Homo sapiens: one gene and its partner. The protein of the gene in region 1 purifies or fractionates together with the protein of each later gene. This does not show direct contact. Each region holds a gene or a part of one and is shown on either strand. Other genes may lie near its edges.

Region 1 (3,808 bases):
GCTAGTTGTAGTGACTGTAAGATGAAGGAGGGTCAATTTGAGAGAGATGAATGAACAGACCAAAGCCCGTCAGGATGAATTATACAAAGCTCAGTATGTAAACAAATCAGTTGAGAGGGGCTGGTGGGGGAATTGGGACAGGAGAGAGAAGTCCCAATTTGGGGTCTTGCTGCATCTGGAGTTGGTGAGATGCCCTCTGGGCAGGAGGTGCCCCTCAGCAGGAAGGCTGCAAATTAGGGGAGGAGCTGAAGGGGCTCTGCCAGCTGCATCTACAACTCCATCAGCCAACCAAGCCAAGCAGCCCTTCCTTTAGGCTCTGACCAAATAGTTTTGAGGGCAGTACTTGGCTATGGGTGTTAAAAATGGATCATTCAAGTTCCAGATCATCTGATAAGTCATTTTCTTCAAATAGCTCAAATTCTGCATCTTTGTCCACGTTGGCAGGTTTCTCGTTTTTGGGCCACTCAAACCTATCTCTTAAGGAAAAGGGGAGTAGAGTGACATGTCCTGTAGTTTGAGAGGAGTGGTGGTAGGGTTGCTGATGAGGAGAGCAGCCACAGGCTGGGTTGTTGGCCCCTAGATTCTGATGTCAGCAGGCTTCCTGGAATGTGTTTGGTAGGACCCAAACAGTGGCAACCAGTGAGGACTGGAAATGTGGCAAAGAAGGCTTAGCAGGGCTGGGACAGAGGTGGGATGGGATTGGGAGATTATAGTTCTTGCTGGTGTGAGGGTAAACTTTGCAGTTCTCTTGCTCAGTCTTCCTCCTTTGATTGGTGGCCTGCACAGTGCAGCAGAATGGCATGAAATTGAGACTCAACAGTTCTGGGAGCTAGTGTGGCTCTGTCACCATTTCACTATGTGACCTTGGACAAGTCTTTTCCCAAGTCTAGGCACAGTTTCCTTCTCTGTGACAAGGAGTTGCCATCCCCCACCAGGCCTGAGTAATGGGTGGCTGAGGAGGGCAAATGGGGGGGTATGGGAGTAGGGAGTGCTTTATAAAGTGGTAAATACCCTGAGGGTGAAGGATATCTGTTGATTTGCATTTCCTTTGATGTTGGTACTTTTAGCTGAGTTTGACCTGGGCTAGAGAACCTGGCTAGTTGAAAGTCCCAGATAATCCTTGGCTGCTAGCCAGTAGCTGACTCTTTTAGGTCCCTGAATATCAAAAGTTGGCTAAATGAGCAAGTAAAGCCTCCTATGACATGACCACACAGTTATCTTCATTTACCATTTGCCATTTGGGAAAACTGAGCCCCAAGGAGGTTTGGTGACTTACCCACAGAGCCCTAGGGAGCACCCTACTCAACCTGACTGAGATGATTTTACTTCTAGAAATTGTTCTACCACAGTTTGAATAAAATATGAATAAAAGTTGGTTACTATAATGTTTTTAGCTTCTGCTATGTAATGCACTTGATTTGGTACATTATGTGCATTGGTTTTACTTCTTACAATAGCCTTAAGAGGTAGGCACTCTCAATGACCTCATTTTACAGTTAAGGAAATTGAGGCATAAACATGGGAAAAAACTTGCTGGATTTCCCCTAGCTGGGCAGAGTTGATTCCAGCGCTGAAATGGCCAGCTCTCTGGAGGGCCATCCTCACCATTTTTTCTTTAACCAACCCTCCCCAACATACAGAAGGGCAGGTGGGCCTGAAGTGGGCTTGCTTTCAGGAAGACTGTTTGGAACAGGCCTGAGGAACTATGGCTGGTCAAGGCCATGTCTCTGGAGCTACTGCATAAATCCACTTGCTTCTTTTTCTTCCCCCAATTCAGCCCTCTTCAAGTTGGCCATGCTGGCCCCGGGAAGCTGATTTGGAGCAGAATGTGCAAGGCTCATATTGCAGCTGTCCCTTCTCCTTGAGAAGGGTCTCTAGGGCAGGTATGTGGCTGGCCTCCTGCCTATGTTTTAAGTGGAGAGGAGAAGGAAGAAGCTCTTCCTTTGTAGCCAGCCTTCCACTGGCCCCAGAATGGCTTGAATCTGGCTCAGGGAGCTGGAATGGCCCCAGCGCTTTCTACCACAGCCTGCTTTCTGCCATGATAGCAGCTGCTGCAGCAGGCAGTCCCTGCAAGGGACCACAGAGTGGCTTGGGAGGGTTCTCTTAACCCCCAGCCCACCTGAAACTCAGCCACACTGGTTAAGGAACATGAGGGTTGTGGGGCCCTGCATTTGGCAGTGCCACTTTCTTGACAGGACCCCCAGGGAAAGCCAGTCCCAGCCTAGGGGATCTGCAGAGTCTGTCCTTTGCTGTCTCCTTTGCTTTCTGCCCCACCTCACTCTCTTGGTGAACTCTTGTGGTCCTAAGTAAAGGCAGCATAACCCATTGAGGAAGGATAGCTTTGGCACCTGGTTGGATAGCAAAGAGTATGGAGAAGAGGCCTAAGGCAGAGGTAGCTAGGTGGGGCTACGCTAGGGAGCTACCAGCTATGGGTGACCCTGCCACCTTCCTTCCCAGTGTTCTGGGTGACATAGGCAGAGATACTGTGAATGACTGTGGGGGGACATGGCTCTGGGAGAGAGAACACAGAGTACCAGTTTAAGGCTGGTATCTGCCAGCAAAGATGACTCTGGACTTGGTTAGGAGAAGGGCCTGAACTGGACGGAGAGAAACTCCATCCCAGGGACACCCTGCGTAATTCATCTGTCTCCCACAACACACAGAGAGGGCTTTTCAAACCTCTTAGCAGAGGAGTTTGTATAGATATACACACCTTTTTAAAATCCCCTCATATCTGTCTCCCTCTCAGCATGGGCCAAGGCAGCAAGTCCCTGAGCTTCCCACAGTGAATGGCTTTCCCAAATGAACAGCCTTTAACACATGGTCAGTTGCTTCCTAAGAAACTGGGATCTGACCTGGAAGGAGTAATAATAACTGTAATGACAGTCTTTCTCATTTGCACTGTACTATACAGTTTATAAAGTGCTTTTTTTGTGCCTATTATCACATCAACTCATCACACCACTGTAGTTGGAGTGGGCAGGTAGAAGGATAGGTAGAGGAGCTGTTTTGATCTCAAAATAGCTCACAAGTACCTGCGTCTCAGCAGGCTACACTGGCCCATTCAGGGTCCCTTGGCAGATGGGAGGCTGACATGGCCTGGACCCCAGCCCTGTGGTCCATGGCTCCTTCCACAACACACTGCAGCTCCCTGTGACAGGAAAGGGGACAATACAGAGAGAGGTGAGTGGGCTGGCCTCTACCCTCACAGAGCATAGGAGCAAGGGCAAGGGAAAGCCCAAAGAGACTGTCTTCTAACTGGGGCGTCAAGGCTCTGGAAAGCAGCCTTCTTTGTGATTCAATTTGCCAAATCACTCTGTTCCCAGGAACTCCAGCCCCAAACCCAGCAGGACAAGTCAGCCTTTGATTCACAAGGATGTGTAGGTCCTAGAGTTTTTCACTTGGCTGTGAGGTTTTCCTTGAGGCCCAGCCTTACTGCCCAAGAAGTGTCTTTCTCCCTTTCACATTTATCTTGGAATATGTTTACAAGGTATAAAGAATGATACTCCACCAACCAGCTTTAGAAATAACAGGGGCTATTCTTTAAGGCAGCGGTTCCCAACCTTTTTGGAACCAGGGACCTGTTTCATGGAAGACAATTTTTCCATGGATGGAGAGGAGGAAGGTTTTGGGATAAAAGTGTTCCATCTCAGATCATCAGGCATTTGTTAGATTCTCATAAGGAGAGTGCACCCTAGATCCTTCGCATGCGCAGTTTGCAATAGGGTTCACGCTCCTATGAGAATCTAATGCCTCTGCTGATCTGACAGAAGGCAGAGCTCAGGTAATGTTCACCTTGCCCTCCTGC
Region 2 (3,808 bases), on another chromosome or scaffold:
TTTTTTGAGACGGAGTCTCACTGTGTTGCCCAGGCTGGAGTGCAGTGGCGCGATCTCGGCTCACCGAAAGCTCCGCCTCCCGGGTTCACGCCATTCTCCTGCCTCAGCCTCCTGAGTAGCTGGGACTACAGGTGCCCACCACCATACCCGGCTAATTTTTTGTATTTTTAGTAGAGATGGGGTTTCACCGTGTTAGCCAGGATGGTCTCGATCTCCTGACCTTGTGATCCACCCGCCTCGGCCTCCCAAAGTGCTGGGATTACAGGCGTGAGCCACCGTGCCCGGCCTATCGTCACTTTTTAACTTGCCGCGGCTGCCTTCCCAGTTCTGCACACACCGGCTGGTCTCCTCCCATCCCATTGCTCCCCTGCCCCACGCAGGATCTGCCGGGTTCTGCTGAGGTAGCTTCCATTTGCAGGAGCACCAGGATTGTGTCTAATGTTTTGCTGTTGTCGCAGCGCTGCCCCAGACAGCCTTGTGCTCGTCTGTCTGCTCACCGCAGCTGCTCCTACCTGTGTCCTGTGCACACGCATGCTGCTCCCGGTTCAGTTGCTGGCCCAGGTGCTTGTCAGCCAAGTCCTGTTATGTGGCGGAAGTCAGGCTTCCCAGACTCCACCGTGGTTTTTGGAAGACTCCTGGGGCCTGGAGTACAGCGGGTGCTCCCTGGCGGCCGCGCTGTCCTCTGGGCAGGACTATGAGTATAGTTTGGGAAGCACCTTAACCCATAACCACATCGAACATTAAAACAAAGAGATTCGAAACTGAGTTATTTCGTGGCCTTGGTGTGTCTCTTCCTGCTCTGCTTCACCGGTTGGATCTGAGTTTTGGGCCCTGGGGGTCTGGGCTTCCCACCAGGTATCTTTTTAAATGGCCACCTTTAATGGCCTTTTTAAATGGCCTTGTAGGTAGGTTTACTCTCTTGGAAGAAAAAATTGCATAAGTCATGATATAAAGAGTTACTTGAAAAAACTTTCCACACTGTATGCAAATTTGAGACGATGGGGAAATAAAATGCATGCGAGAAGTTCAGATGTGCTTGGAAGGTTTAACTTTTCATCCAGCTTTTCCTCCCCAAGAGGACGCACACAGGCACGGAGGGCTGGCCCCCGAGTGCCCGCTGTCTCTGCTGAAGATAATGGAGCCATTTCTGGCAATTTGTCCTCATTATCAAAATCAGCCTGCGGAGTTTTCCGAGTTCCCATTTACGGAGGAACGGCGTGGAGCTTCACTTACCACTCTGCTGTGTCATCTTTCAGGCTTTTTCTGGGAGGAGGTGGGCAGGGGTTTGCCGTACGGAGCTCTGAAATGGACTGTAAGAGGCACTCAGGGAATCTGGGGAGAGGCATCGGCTTTGAGGACAGCTGGGCCCCTGCAGAATCCTCATCTGCATTTTGCTTTTAGTGAGATGATATTTTCCTGGGGAAGCAGAGCTTGCTAGATCATTTGCTAACTCCCTCCGAGCACGTGAGCTCATTTATAGAAGGGCAGGTTCCTCTGACCAGAGTCTTTGTGCTCCTTGGAGCCACGTTACTGTGGCTGGTTACAGAGGAGCTGCGCGGGCCAAATGGGCGCTGCCCAGGAGGTAGTTGGACTGGGAGCTGTGCCCGCCAGGCTGGGCAGTTGGATCCTCTGAGGGTTGGGGGCTCCCTCTGGCCTTGCCCCAATGCCTTCCACCCATCCACAGGCCCTTAGCAGGGTTTCCACCAGATCCTGCAGCTGGGGAAGCACCTCCTTGGATGGGTTCTGGAAGCTGCTGGGAGAGGCACGGCGGGGATTGGCTCCGATGGTCGTGCAGCTCTGGTGTTAGGGCGGCACTTTCTGGATTTGGTTTCTCCTTGGTCGACAGCATTTTCCTTGTTGTTTTTGTTTTTTTGGGATTCAGAGCGGAACACGAAGTGGCTGAGCAGTCTCTATCCAGAGTGCCCAGCGTTTGACGTCACAGGCCTCTGTGCTGTGTGCTTGGTCCGTAGGTCCCGTAAGTGCCGGCCTGTGCTCTGTGCCATAGGAATTCAGGATACCAGGACATATAGGAGATTCGTTTGCCCAACCTTCATGGCAGCAGAGGCCACAGGAGAGGGAGGGAAGGCGAGCTGCTGGGCCCAAGATGTGGGCCACATGGGGGTGACGGGAGGTGGGACAGGGCCATGGGGGAAGCCTGATTTCTCCGGAGGTCTGGGTTATCCTGGAAGTCCGATGGGGAGTGGTAGTGTCTGCTGCAGTGGAGAGTCCTGTCACCGTGAAGGAGGCTGTCATGAGCCAGGTGGGGACAGGACATGGGCTGGAGACTGGGCTGTGGGCCTCAGGGAAGCCAGGCAGATGACTCAGTGTGCAGGGCTCCCACCCTGGCCTCTGAGTGGGCAGAGGTGGCCCCGTCAGGATGGGCTTGGGGTCTGGCTTGGTGGTTTCATGGTGGGCAAAGGCAAATGGCAGTGTATGTGAAATGACCGTAAGAGACGAGTGGCTATGGACGCTCCAGCACCGCTGTGGCAGGAGCCTGGTGGGTTTCAGAGACTCCAGCGATGCTGGGGCTTCCTCCTGCTGAGGTGCAGGGGCTGAGAGCCCTGGGTCTGCTGGGCCATGAGGTGTCCATGTGGCCTGGGGAGGGGTTGCAGAAGCAGCACAAATGCCAGCTGGGCTGAGGCGGGGCTGGGCAGGTACAGGTGGCCCTGGGAGGAGGCTGCTGGCTCTTTAGGCAGCCCCTGGATGCTTGGGAGGCAGCTGTGGCCTTATAAAGGGCCAAGGCAGTTCTCAGTCCCTGGCTCCAGGGGGACCCCATGAAGGGCTGGCCTTGCCTCCCCCAGGTGCGCCTCCCAGTGTTACCGGGCCTGCATGGAGAATCCTCAGCAGGACCTGGCGGACAGCTTGTGCTTAGTGGGTGTTCGTGAGGCCGCAAGCCAGGTTGGCAGTGTCTGCTCAGGAGCTTCTCGGTTAACAAAACAGCCGGAGTCAGGGAGCTGCAAGACTGGGGCAACCTCAGACCCCAGCTCTTCCGGGCAGGGAAGATGCAAAGATGACTAGTGAGGAGAAGCGTGTTAGGGAGCTCCAAGCACCCCAAGCTGTGAGACCTGCTGGCCCAGGAAGAACAGTGAGGACGAGGCCAGCTGTACCCCCTCTCCTGGCTGCTGGTGCATGCCAGGGCTCTAGATAGACAGCGACACTTTTGGGTGGCACCCTTGCTGCTGTTGCCCCTGAACGGTAACCAGCGGCTGCCCCTGTTACAGACAAGGTGGTGAGGCCTGTGGAGACCTGACTGCGTGGGGGTTCAGGGGCCCACTGCCCCCAACACAGGCTGACACATTCCCTCTCCTACCCCACTGTGCTTCCTCCCAGGCCCGCCAGCGCCAGTACCTCGAGTTCTCGCTGCCCCGCAGAACTCACCTGTGGGACCAGGGGTAAGTCCAGGCCCCCCACGGCCTCCTTCAGAATTCCAGAGTCAATTACTTGCAAGAAAACCCTCTGTCCCCCCTTAAGCACAGTGGATCCCTGCGTGCTTCTGCGTGGCTGGGGAGGGCCTGCTGGCGGCGGCGGGGCTGTCCCCTCCTACCCTGTCTGTGCAGCCTGTCCCTGATGTTCTGACTCCCAGTGCGGGCTTTTAGTGGGGCTGCTGCTTGCAACCCCTATGCTGCTGTATGGGGCGTCTCCACATCTCCCTGGCAGCTGCATCTCATGGTGGCAACTCTCAGGACTGGACGGCCTTTGCTTTTTCTGAGAGACATCGAGGTGTGGTCCTCACCCTCTTTGCTCTCCCAGACTAACTCCACCAGTAGCGGTGCCTGGCAGCTATTGGTGTCCCCTGGCCCTGTCGGCC

Evidence for each region.
Region 2: the proteins of AMER1 (region 1) and NPHP4 purify together in Homo sapiens (co-immunoprecipitation; one large-scale study listed by IntAct). This does not show direct contact.

Annotation. Positions count from the first base shown.
Region 1 is NC_000023.11:64,195,516-64,199,323, reverse strand, and holds part of AMER1 (APC membrane recruitment protein 1), read left to right. Parts: intron 1-3,808. UniProt on the Homo sapiens protein: Regulator of the canonical Wnt signaling pathway.
Region 2 is NC_000001.11:5,908,736-5,912,543, reverse strand, and holds part of NPHP4 (nephrocystin-4), read left to right. Parts: intron 1-3,330; coding exon 3,331-3,392; intron 3,393-3,808. UniProt on the Homo sapiens protein: Involved in the organization of apical junctions; the function is proposed to implicate a NPHP1-4-8 module. Does not seem to be strictly required for ciliogenesis. Required for building functional cilia.